Homo sapiens: one gene and its partner. The protein of the gene in region 1 interacts with the protein of each later gene in a biochemical or structural test. Each region holds a gene or a part of one and is shown on either strand. Other genes may lie near its edges. The genes, in order: ANP32A and TAF1A.

What was found.
Region 2: the proteins of ANP32A (region 1) and TAF1A form a complex in vitro, tested with the Homo sapiens proteins (one study listed by BioGRID).

What each region holds. Positions count from the first base shown.
Region 1 is NC_000015.10:68,778,035-68,783,189, forward strand, and holds the end of ANP32A (acidic leucine-rich nuclear phosphoprotein 32 family member A), read right to left. Parts: intron 5,020-5,155; coding exon 4,922-5,019; intron 2,440-4,921; coding exon 2,376-2,439; intron 2,109-2,375; coding exon 2,047-2,108; 3' UTR 501-2,046; downstream 1-500. UniProt on the Homo sapiens protein: Multifunctional protein that is involved in the regulation of many processes including tumor suppression, apoptosis, cell cycle progression or transcription. Promotes apoptosis by favouring the activation of caspase-9/CASP9 and allowing apoptosome formation.
Region 2 is NC_000001.11:222,558,669-222,565,962, forward strand, and holds part of TAF1A (TATA box-binding protein-associated factor RNA polymerase I subunit A), read right to left. Parts: intron 5,458-7,294; coding exon 5,391-5,457; intron 4,629-5,390; coding exon 4,505-4,628; intron 2,851-4,504; coding exon 2,696-2,850; intron 105-2,695; coding exon 1-104. UniProt on the Homo sapiens protein: Component of the transcription factor SL1/TIF-IB complex, which is involved in the assembly of the PIC (pre-initiation complex) during RNA polymerase I-dependent transcription.

The DNA of each region.
Region 1 (5,155 bases):
TGAGGTGGGTCACGGGCTCTTCTGGAAACACTTTACACTGCTGGAATCACACAACAACTATAAGACATTGTAAGGAACTAGGGCTTGTTGTGGGTTCAAGGCTGTATAGAATGAATACATAAGAATGAGTATATGTGTACGTGTATAAACAACCACAGTAAACTGGCTGAACTCTTCTGGAAAACATGGAACCTTGTACATGAGCCTCATAAATGTTTTTAGCTTTTGGTCCAATGACTCTACTACTTCTAAGAGTTTGTACTAAGAACTCCACAAAAAGTATAAATAAGTAGTAATATAACAATATCCACTACAGGGGTAAGCTGGACATAATGAAAACATCTAACCATTTGGTTAGAATTAAGTAAATCAGAATATAGTTGATGGACTACTATGTAGCCATTTAAGATACATGCTTTTGAAAATTAAAGAAACAGGGAAATGATTATAATACTGTTAAGTAAAGTAACAAAATAAAACACCATATGTAAACCTCTGGGTTTGTGAAATAATTTGTTTTATAAACATTCCTGAGTTTTCAACCATACATTCTTTTTACAATACGACAAACAAAACAATGAAAGATATTCAAAACAAGGTTCCAAGGTTGGCCCAACTTGATTGTTTGGGTACTTGTTTTTTTAGTAACTCTGTAACTTTTTTAAAGGAAGCTTTTAATGAAGATACACCACTGAGTCTTGCTTTAAGACCAAAAATATCCAAACATAGTATCACATTATATATATCTCATAAGAAAAGCTATTCTATCAGGTAACAAAAATGAAGCTTCCCCCTCACCTAGCAGTTCATCTGGAATGCATCTTGAAAAGATCAATGGCCTGTTGGACTCAAAGAAGCCATCCCCAAAAAAATTGTATAAAAAGATTTATTGAAATTTATCAATGACAAACAGACATAAAACTCAAAGTTTGGCTCTTCTGAGGGGCAGGAGAAAAACTGGTGCAGATGTTCTTTTATACAGATGAAACATGGGTTCAGAAATTACACGTCACTTCTAAAGCAACCAGAAGAGGGACACGAAAGCAAACCTGTACATTCACTAGGAATTTGCAGTCATTTCAGATTTCCACTAGGTAAGAAAATACAATTTTGCGTTAGTTTTTCCGTGCTCGGGTGTATGAAAAAAAAAACCCAGCCGACATGCAGCAACGTCTCCAGCGCTTAGGTCCGTAAAAATGTTCTAAGCACAGAAGTACATGTGGAAGAATTCTCTCATCATTTTTTGTAAAACAAAGCGTTCTAATATTTTACAGAACAAGATAGGACAGTTTTTTTTTTCTTTTAAAGAAGTTGAAGTTTGAAGGTGTGTTTCTTCTAATTTTAATTACCAAATCCATTTTCCTTGTAACTTAACACAACAAGCCTGCGGTTTTCAGCTCTCTGGCTCATAAGCTCAAGAGTAACATCAGAGTCCTCTTTGTAGAGCGAAGCCCACCACCATCTGTGAAGGGGGAAAAGGGATGAGAGATGGGGAATGTCCCCAGACCAGTGCCAAAATACGCCTTTAGGTTGCTATTTACAAACCAGGGCGTTGGATGCCTCTAGCAGGCCTGAGAAAAGCAGGTATCATCATGTGAACCAAAGCAAAAGATATGGCTGGTGCTCAGCCCCTCCTGGGCATTGAGTAACCAAACTGAGACCAGCCACAGCCTTCCAACCAACCCAAGAGACTTGGGAAATACCAGGAAACGTAAGAGAACTCCAAACCATCCTCTTTGAGAGTCAGGAACAAATGCTCACTTAGTGTGTACTTAGCTATCGCATTTACAGGGACAAAAACCGGACACAAAGAAAAAGTAGGGGAAAAAAATAAAGAGTGGCAGTAAAAATAGTATTTTATTCCACCCCCACCCGCCATCCCTCCCCCCGCAACCCCCAGTACACTCTTCCCCTCTCGTTCCCACAGCAACGTTACAATCAGAAAAAAATAAGTTTCAGGGGGCAGGATTGGAGGGGGGGGGGAGAGGGGATATGGGTAAAAACAGTCAAATCACAATAGGAATTTTTCAAAATAGGTTATTCCACTTAGTCATCATCTTCTCCCTCATCTTCAGGTTCTCGTTTTCGCTTCTGACCCCTTTCTTCTTCTGGAAAAGTAAGAAAGCGGCATTTAGATTAGTTATTAATCCCACCTCTTTAACTCAACCCACCCAGTGAGAAGTCAGGGGACCCATGACTAGCAAGCTGTGCCATCCTTGGAAACCGAGGCAAGACATCTGCACAGCTGGAAGGGGAATCTGAGGCCTCTGACAGGAGTGTCCTGCCCACTGCCAGGGGCCTCTGAGTCTAAGCAATCTAAGGCCAAAGTGAAAGGGCCAGGCTGCTACCAGCTGAGAGTAAAAAGGCTGCCATACCACCAAGCTCTTCTTCATCTTCCTCGTCATCTACCTCTCCATCGTTATAACCTTCTTCATCCTCCTAGGAGAAAGGACAGACACCAGAACATTAGAAATGCCCTGCCTTGGGACATGCTGAGGAAGCCACACAGAGCACAAAAAGGCCGGGGTCACCCCCAGCCTCTCAGAGCCCCCACCAAGACTTGACATCTCGGGAGGAATGTAAAGCAGAGGTTCTTAATTTATTTCAGATCAAGGACTCATTGGGAAATCTGCAGAAAGCTTTGAACTCCTTCTCCAGAAAATGTCCGTATCATTTATAATATTTGCAAGCAGTTTCAGGGGGTTATGGATTCCAGGACCCAGGTTAAGAACTCTGATCTGAAGTCCCTGTAAGGCAGGCAGCTCTCCAGTCTGCACATTCTCTGAGGAGAACAAGTTCCCGAGCAGACTCCCTGACGTGCAAAGTAGGCCATCCTTTCTTGCATCTGTCCTCAATCTAGTTTTGGCTTCAAGAGAAGACCCCAGTTTAAGCAAATCCAGATTCTGTGGGCAAGTTCAACGTCACCTGACCCAGCCCCTTCCCTAGCTTGCAAACTTGGACCACCTGGAAGGGTTGGGGAAGATAAATTCAAGACCCCCTGAGGACATCATTCCCAACCGGCTTGAGATTCAGCAAGGTGTATGACTTTCTTTCTCAACACAGGGCCCTTGCTTTCCTCTGCTCCTGAAAGTATATGCAAGTTGAATCTCTGCTTGTTAAACCTGGTTCCTGAAGTTTAAAAGAACTTGGTGACAGACTTCTTTTTTGTCAAGGGAAACATTCTTTTAAAATGTCACCAAAGAGTTCCCTCATCAGTCTGTTTGCTAAGGTTCTGGTTTTTTTTTGCATGTATAAGCTCTCCTTTACTGAAAGCTGGAAATATGCAGATGGTCAGTGAGATTATTTAAAAAACAAAAAACAAAAAACAAAATCCACAACCCTCCCCCATCCCCACCCCCCCAAACCTCACATGCAGCACTCCTGTGACAGGAAGAGGAAGATGTAACAGCTATTAGCCAATACAACTTACTGCCCTGTTCTAGGGGAACCTGTTTTACTAAGACTTTATTTTTAAAATACAATATTCTTTAGAGATGAGCCTAAGAGTCTAGACCTAGGGAGAAGGCAAAGCCAGCAGCACAACTAAACAGAAACCAAGCTCATCTGGCCAGCTTTTTTTTTTTTTTTTAACTGAGTCTCGCTCTATTGCCCAGGCTGGAATGCAGCGGTGCCATCTCGGCTCACTGCAACCTCTGCCTCCCAGGTTCAAGCGATTCGCGTGCCCCAGCCTCCTGTGTAGCTGGAATTATAGGCATCCATCAACATGCCTGGCTAATTTTTATATTTTTAGTAGAGATGGAGTCTCGCCATGTTGCCTAGGCTGGTCTCGATCTCCTGACCTCAAGTGATCCGCCCGCCTCGGCCTCCCAAAGTGCTAGGATTACAGGCGTGAGCCACCGCGCCTGGCCTCCGCGATTCTATTGTCATTGGCCTGTGTCTCTCAAGCCTGGGCCGGCTGGCTGGAACTGGAAGACACTATCTGAGTGAGTCCGTGTGGCAAGCGGATGTGTCTGCATCCTCCATTGAGGGAGACAGGAAACTGCGGGGGGAGTTGGGAGGGGACACAGGCGCCTTGTCCATGCTATTGTCACTTTAAAACTCTCTAGTTCTAACTTTTGCAATTAGCAAGAGTTGATTTAGAATTCTGAGCAAGTCATAGAAAATGACTCTGCTACAGAGAGACTCAGAACACACAAACACAAAACCCAACACAGTGCCAGGAACCTGGAGGAGGGTGTGAACGCCTACAATAAGCAGTCAGACACTTACCCCTTGTCAGACACTGTCCTTAAGCATTTTACTTACACTTCACTTTATCCTCTTAACAACCCTGTGAGAAAGCTATCATGATCCCTATTTTACAGATGAAGAAATAGGCTCAGAAAGGTCAGGTAAATTGTCTGGGGACACACAGCTTGCGAGTGGTAGAGCTGGGACTCACCCCCTCACAGATCTTGTTAAAAAACTGGGAACCAGCCAATCTCTTTAGGAAAATGGCCAACTCCTGGTGCTCTATTTCCATAGTGTCACTCTCTGATTTGGGATCCAGCAGTGTTATCCTGCTACCTATCAGTTCAAGGCAGACTTTGGTTTTCCCTAGCACAGTTTAAGTGCTCAATGAATATCTTAATTAGCATATGAAAGCAAAAAGCAGAAAATGGGGCCATGCATTCTGTACTTCTTCACATAGAAACAACGGCCAGGCTTACCCCAGCAGGTTCAGTCCCTGCCTCTAAAATCCTCTTCCCCTCTTCTAATCCAGCCTCCCCAGAGCTTACTGCAAGTCTTGTCTCCCCAGAAACAGCCCAGTGAAAGGCTCTGAAATGGACTCACTTCACTACCCATCGGGGAGCGACTTTCCTAACCAGGGCTCCGGGGCTGCCAAGACTGATCACAGAGGCAGTCAGTGGGACTGCCTCAAAGGGGCAGACGGTGGCCCTGCCCAGCCCAGCCTCCTTACCTCCTCCTCTCCACTCACGTCCTCCTCTTCACCTTCCTCCTCCTCATCCTCGTCCTCCTCGTCTTCCACTACCTGAGCATCTTCATCATACTCCTCCTCTGTGCAATCGAAATGGGGAACGGAAACAGAACTAGTGGTGAGCTGGCTCCGCCCCCCACACAGCACAGGCCCCTTGTAGCGTCTTCAGTGTGGGGCTCATGACCCTCCCACACCCACCTAAGTCCAAAGATGGAA
Region 2 (7,294 bases), on another chromosome or scaffold:
TGGATTTACAATACTGTATTTTTTCACAGATCTCTTCATCCGCTTAATTTTCTTCCCTAAGATTTGGTGATCTTGCTTTAAAATATACCGGAAATATCTACAACCTAAAAAGTTAAGCAAAATAAAAAGTTTTAATACTCATCACATTTTTCAAGTATATTTCTACATTTTAAAAATTCTGCTTTAAGTTTAGCACACTAATGATTATGAAAATAGATTTATTTGTATTATCAATATGTCCTAAGCATATTCTCAGCTGTGCCCAATGAAATACATTTGTTCCTATATACAAAATTTATTTGTATTACCAATATGGCATAAGTATATTCTCAGCTGTGCCCAACGAAACATATTTCTTCCTATATATAAAGATGTTTCTAATCCACCATAATTAAAGCATAGACTTTAGCTTGTTTTCTACTCTTCCTCCTACACCCTAGTGATGGTGACAGGCATATTATATACAGTCACATATTAAATGAGCCTTCTCCAAAAGCACATTCGTATAGCTTCCTTCTCAATGTTAGCTTGTAAATCAGCCAAAGTTACGTTCATAACAGTAAGAAAGTTCTCTGTAGAAAATCTTAGGATGTGAAGGATTAGAATAAACAAATCATAGGTTAGAAACGGTCAAACATTATCTATTCATTCTAGCCATGTAGAGAGCAGCAAGGTGGAGACCATGTAGCTCTCACAGAGGTGCCTCATGCTCATTAGAAGTTCCACCTGCTGTTCATAAGTCTTACAACACACAAAGGACTGTCAAGCATTTGTCAAATATTTCAGACAAATGAATCATATTTCTGTAAGAAAAATGTAAACTGGATATTGAGGTTTTTTAGAGTTGGTAAATGAATAAGACCATAATTCACATATGAAAAATTAATTTCATTACAGTTTCAGCTTGTATGCATCCATCTTCTCTGAGAAAATGCAAGGACATATACTGTACCTATAGTAACCATTTTTATTATTCCTGAAACTAGTATGCCAGAATTGCTAACATCTTTGTTTTGTTGTTTTTCCTGAGATGGGGTCTCACTATGGGACACAAAGTGGTTTCAAACTCCTGGGCTCAAGTAATCCTCCCACCTCAGCCTCCCAAGTAGCTAGGATTACAGGCACACTGCATGCCACCGCACCCAGCTAGTAACGTTTTACTAGCTGGGAAGCAGTGGTGTCTGTAGTGTTACTAAAATAATTTGTATTTCTAAACATATCATACTACCTTAGTAAAAAACAAAATACTTTGCACACAGATTTTTGCCTGTACCTATATAGAAAGCTGGAAAGAATTTCGTTCCCACCCTAACATAGAGAAAAAGCTTAATAAACTAACTCTCAAGTCCATGAGAGCTGAAGTCACAGGGCAACCAAGTAGCTTCAATCCCAACAAGGAAAGACCCCTCCAAGGAGAAATGGGCCTGGCTTGCTTTTAGTGCAGCATGGAAAGAAAGAGAGCCACCATACCCCACTCAAAGCACAAAGCAAAGGCAGACCACACCCAGAATTTGAATCCTATAAAGTAAGGTTGGTAACCAGAGCAAGAAGAAAACCCAGCTTAACTAATGAATAGACTGACTCAACCCCACACTAACAGCCTGAGAGGAGATGTGGCTCTTGCGGGAGTAACTGATGCCTGATATTTGTAGAGCACTTTAGAAATTACAAAGCACTTTGATGCGATGTTCACATGATACTTACAACAATAAGATGGGTGTTACAATGCCCACTTCATAGAAAAGGCTCCTAAAAGTTAATTGCTTGACCTAAGTTAGATAGCAAGGGAGTGAATTGGAAAATTAACCCAGATCTTCCTACTCTGCTCAAAGAGACCTCTTGATAATTGTGCTAGATGCCGCTCTACTCATAAAGTAGAAAAATGACAATCCAAATCACCTTTCTGTTCCTTGTCATCAGTGTATTGATTTTTATTTTCTTCTTAATCAACATTGTATTACATTCACTGAGACTACTAATTCCAAAATAATAGAAACCATATTCAAAAGTGAATTGGAGAATCTCTTCAGGACACCTTAAGCTCCCTAGCAATGGACTGCTTACTAGTGGTCACTGTAAGATTTATTTTCTTCATTTCTGGACATACTCTGTGGTAGTTTCATTTCGGTACTGGCCACCTTTTAATAATTTCAGTGGCAGAAAGCAGGTAAGAATTTTACCACCCAAAATATTTCTTTTCTTTGAAGAAAAAATCAATATCCCTTTTCTTTGAAGAGAATTTTTTTCATATGCTAGTAGGAGGTATTCTTTCTCTTAAGTGGAGGAAATGTTTCACGCTTACAGAAACAGGTAAGTAAATATTAGTATAATATGAAGCTATTAAAGAACAGTGAGGTCAATAAAGAATATTTTGACACTTGAAAATCTCAGTAAACTTTCTATAAAACAAGGCCAAATGGTCAATTATTGTGAAAACTCTGTATCATGTATCTTAATGGCCCCCTAACAACACTCAAGTCAGGAGATGAAAACCGTTCACAATCAATATGAAATCACTGCTTCTAATCTAAGCACATAGTCCCAACTCAGGATTCACTCTTCCATTGAGCAGTTATGTCTTAAGCACCTAATATTTTTAGGTACCATGTTAGGTAAGCTCTAAATGAAGGCCATACTTCATAATTTCAAAATCAGCCAAAGCTGTGTCTAGATAAAACGAAAATAAAAACTGTACCTTTTCCTAACAGTAAACCAGCCACAAAAGCTTTCTCACAGGCCAAAGCTGTATCTTCCTTCCAATCACTTTTTGCCCAAAAGTAGCTGAAATGAAAGCCTGGCCACCAGTTTTTCCTGGAGTTCCACTCTTCTTGAACCCACGCAAGGTGGTTTCTGGAAAAGAAAAATGTCAAAAGAGAGGGTCAATGATGGAAACAAATCTATATTATCAGAATTTAGACTTAACTAGAGTCTACAGAAAGATGACAAGGAAGATGCTTCCAAGCTAAATTCTCAATATGGCCAAGGCATAACACATGATTGGCAACAGCAGGAAAGCAAATCCTTTTTTGTTCTCTTCCATCTCCATATCCCATTTTCCATTTCACTAAACAGACAGTTTAGCACAGTGGTTACAGAACAGACTCGAAGCCAGAATCCTGGATTCAAATATCAGCTCTTCCATCTACTATGTATGTGATCCTGGGCAAGTTGCTGAACCTCTCTGAGCTTCAGTGCCCTTGAGGACATTAGTGGTACTGATCTCATAGGAATGTTATTAAGATTAAACTATTCTAGTAGTAGGGTACAGCAGGTCTCATATAAAGCTCTTTGCATAGTGTCTGGTACATAGTAAATGTTCAATAAATATTATCTATTACTATTACTTAAGTAAAACCTTACTTAAAATTATATGCTGCCATGAATTACTATCCAAATGGAGATACCATTATTATACAAATACATTAAGACATATGTTAAACTGTTAAGTGCAGGCAATTCTGTGTGTCTGTGAATAATTTTTTTTATTGTATATATTTAAGGTATACAACATGTTTCATATACATATAGTTAACTTTTTTGAGTGGTGGGAGCACCTGAACTCTACTCATAGTAAATTTCCTATATGCAATACAATATTAACTACAGTCTACGTTGCACATTAGATCTCTATAATTTAATTGAGCAAATGCTTATTGGCACCCATGTGCCCCCTATGGTAGAACAAATAGAGGTTCGAAAAAATGAACCTCTTTGCTTTCAAGGACCTTATGATCTAGTAGAAGTTTATTCAGGGCTTCAGATTTAGAAAATGCTTTACAGTGAGTGCGTCAACATATGACACCAAAACCATTTTATAAACAGCACTGTCCCATCGGGACAAGTCAGATCTGAAGCCTGAAACAATTTCCAACTGACACTGAATTGCCTAACAACTAAATTGGATATAATAAATATATGAAACAACTTTGTAATATCCCTTCTTCTCACACACTAAGTAAAAATAACAGGAAATTCATTTTCTTTTACTCAAAATGTGACACTAACAATATTATGATCAGAGGTACACTTTTAGATACCCAGGTCAAAATGGATTTAATGAGTATTTGTTAAATGACTAGTGTATGATGATCTTGTCAGGTCCTAAAAATACTCACTGAAAATGATCAAACACAGGTAGGAGGAAAGCTGCTTCCCATGTGATCTTACAAGTTAATGACGCACAAATCACAAAGAGTCTTTAGCAAAGAGTGATCCCTGCTAGTCTTTATTTCCAAATGGAAAACACATACGTATTCCTTAGCAAGCAGTAGTGCTAAGTACAGGATTTATTTTGATGGCATAAAAAAATTGATAGAATTTTTGTATGTTCTCCTTATGACTCTGTATTTCTTTGCTTCAGAAGAAAATGTACTCAGAAAACAGCTGAAGACACAATTCAAGAAATTATAAAACATAAGCAAAGATCTTTAAAAATTGATATTAGCTAAAATATTGGGAAATATTATTTATGATGACCTAGTAATAAACACTGTATGTTTCTTACCCCATTAAGATATTTTTCAGATATTTTGCCAAGTATTTCCAAGCAGTTATATTCTTAGTGCATCCGGCAAAATCTAAGACTCCAAATAATACCTCCAACCCCAGTTTACGGTGTTCTTCTTTTTCTGCAATGGTTTTAACAGTTCAAGTTTACATAAGGTATTAAAGTGTACAAAGCTAAAATTTACATGTATACATTTTATCAACTGTATATATACTTTACATATATGTTGTTGATAAAATACTGAATCATAAGCCTTCTGGTTAACAGTTTTTAAAAATTCATTATGCTCTTACTCCTGCAATGAATCTGAAAAACTCAATAAAAATCCCTGCTAATGAGGTAATGGTGGTGAATTTGATCTCAATATGGGTTACACTCCTCTACTAAGGACATTATTTAAAGTACCTGCCCTGTTTGGGCATTTTATACATGTTCTTTCATATTCAGAGAGGAACCTAGGCAGTCCTAGGACCAGCTTGGGCTTAGCCAGCTGATTTTCTTCTATGAAGGAGCATGCTCTCTTCTATGGTGTGCTGAAATGTAGCAGGGATTAAAATGGAGTGAATTATATAAAATCGAGCCATTTCTCTTTTGCAAACTACTGCCTTCACATTGTGTAACAGGAGTAGGCAAACTTTTTCTATAAAGGCCCAGATAATAAATATTTTAAGCTTTGCAAGGCATACAGTCTCTGTCACAACTACACGGCTCTGTCACTATAGTGCAAAAGCAGCCGCAGACAATACAGAAACAGATGGACTCCAACAGAACTTGATTTATAAAATCAGGAAAGGGGTGGATTTAGCCGATGGGCTAAACTAGTTTGCTGGTCCCTAGTCTATAGCTTGTCTACACAAGGTATAAAACAACATTTATTTATTACCTGATTTTCTAAGTAATGTATGGAATTCCAACATCAATTTATGAGATGGTACAATCTGATACAAAATCTGAAAGAAAGAACAGTCTTGTAATCTTTACATACTTGTAAAAGCATTTCTCAAATTTCAGCTTACTTTCAAAATAAAGTTCTTACTGTCTAATATGCTCCCTTTAAATTTATTAAGTATTTTAAAAATACCCTGGCTCTTTATCTAGTTTCAATCTAAGTATAGAAAAGCATTCTCTGTAAAGCTGTCTTAAAAAAAAAAAAAAAAAAAAGGCCCTGATAACAAAATAGTCAGGAGAAGTGAGGAAAATAGGCAGGGACTTTTTATTTGCTCCTTATACATATCTATACTGTTTACCACGCTCAACAACTAAAAACGATTTCTTTCAGAAGCCAGGACTGAAGAAAAAAAGAAAAAAATCAATTATCACACAGAAAATATACTTATTTACTAAACAGAAGAGATCACAGAATATTTATATAAAGCAAAAAAGCTAAAAAGGCTGGGAGTTAATTTCACAGATTGTGCTCAGGAACAGTTTACTAAGGTTATATGAGTAAATATTTTAACAACCTTTCACACAATGAAAAAATTAAAGATTTTTCTTTTAAAAAATAGGAAGGACTATTTTTATGAATATTCAAAAAATGGAATTTAAAGTAAAGCTGTATTTTTCATTTTAATACATTTAATACTAGAAATGAATTCATTCTGCTTACTAAAGTACTTTGACCTTACATTGAAATAATTTCCAACAAAATTAAAAGTAAATTTTGTTAATTTCTCTTAATCATTTTTAAAAAGATCAATCAAGATCAATACACCAATATCAGAGAATATTATTGAAATTCAGTTCCTATGAAAGTCACATTTGTCTCATGATTTTATAGAATTCTGTATATGGCTCAATTCACTTAGATTTTTCTATTGAAATATAACATGTAGTAGAAGTGCATACAAATCATGACACCAGTCAGTTTTCACAAAGTTAAACACTCAGGTAACCAGCACCCAGATCAAATAATAGCACATCACCAGAACACTAGAAATCCTCCATTTGTTTTGAAAAAGTCTTAGTCATGAGCCCTTCAAATGCCAGTGTTTTTAAAAAATTAGTTTGCTTGCTTTTGCCCTGTTCTATTCAGAGGTCCTCCACCTAGGACTCCAATGACAGGTATGTCAGATCTTTTCACCAATTCACTTGTATGCTCGTTTCTGCACCTTTCATCCTTTTTGTTCTCCATGGTTTAGCCTGATATTTTCTATGCAGTTCATTAATCCTCTCTTTTGCTATGTCCAATCTGCTATTAAACCCATGTATTGAGATCTTAATTCCAAATACCCTATTTTTCAAAAGGAAAAACAGAATTTCTCTAAATCCATCTTGTCTTGAATATAAATATGAGATAAGTATTCAACAGTTATTTTCTGTAGCATTTTAAAAAATCTTTTCAAAAACACCATTAGTGATTGATAACCTGAAAGCACAGTCTTGCTTTTGTTTTAAACACAATCCTTAATATTTTGTAATATAAATGAGCCAAAAGCTATCTTAAGAGAGTAAAATAAAAATAGCAACTTTAAAGGTATTGTTTAGTCCAGCCTGGGCAACATAGCAAAACCCTGTTTCTCCAAAAATACAAAAAATTAGCCAGCCATGGTGGCGTGTGCCTGTAGTCCCAGCTACTCGGGAGGCTGAGGTGGCAGGATCACCTGAGCCAGGGAGGTGGAGGCTACAGGGAGCCTCACGTGATCATGCCATTGCACTCCAGCTTGGGCAACAGAGTGAGACCCTGTTTCAAACAACAACAACAGCAAAGGATTGTTTAGTAAAACAAAGCCTGTTGAAAAATTTATAAAACTTAGTTTCCACATCTGAAGGTTTGATAATGCCAAT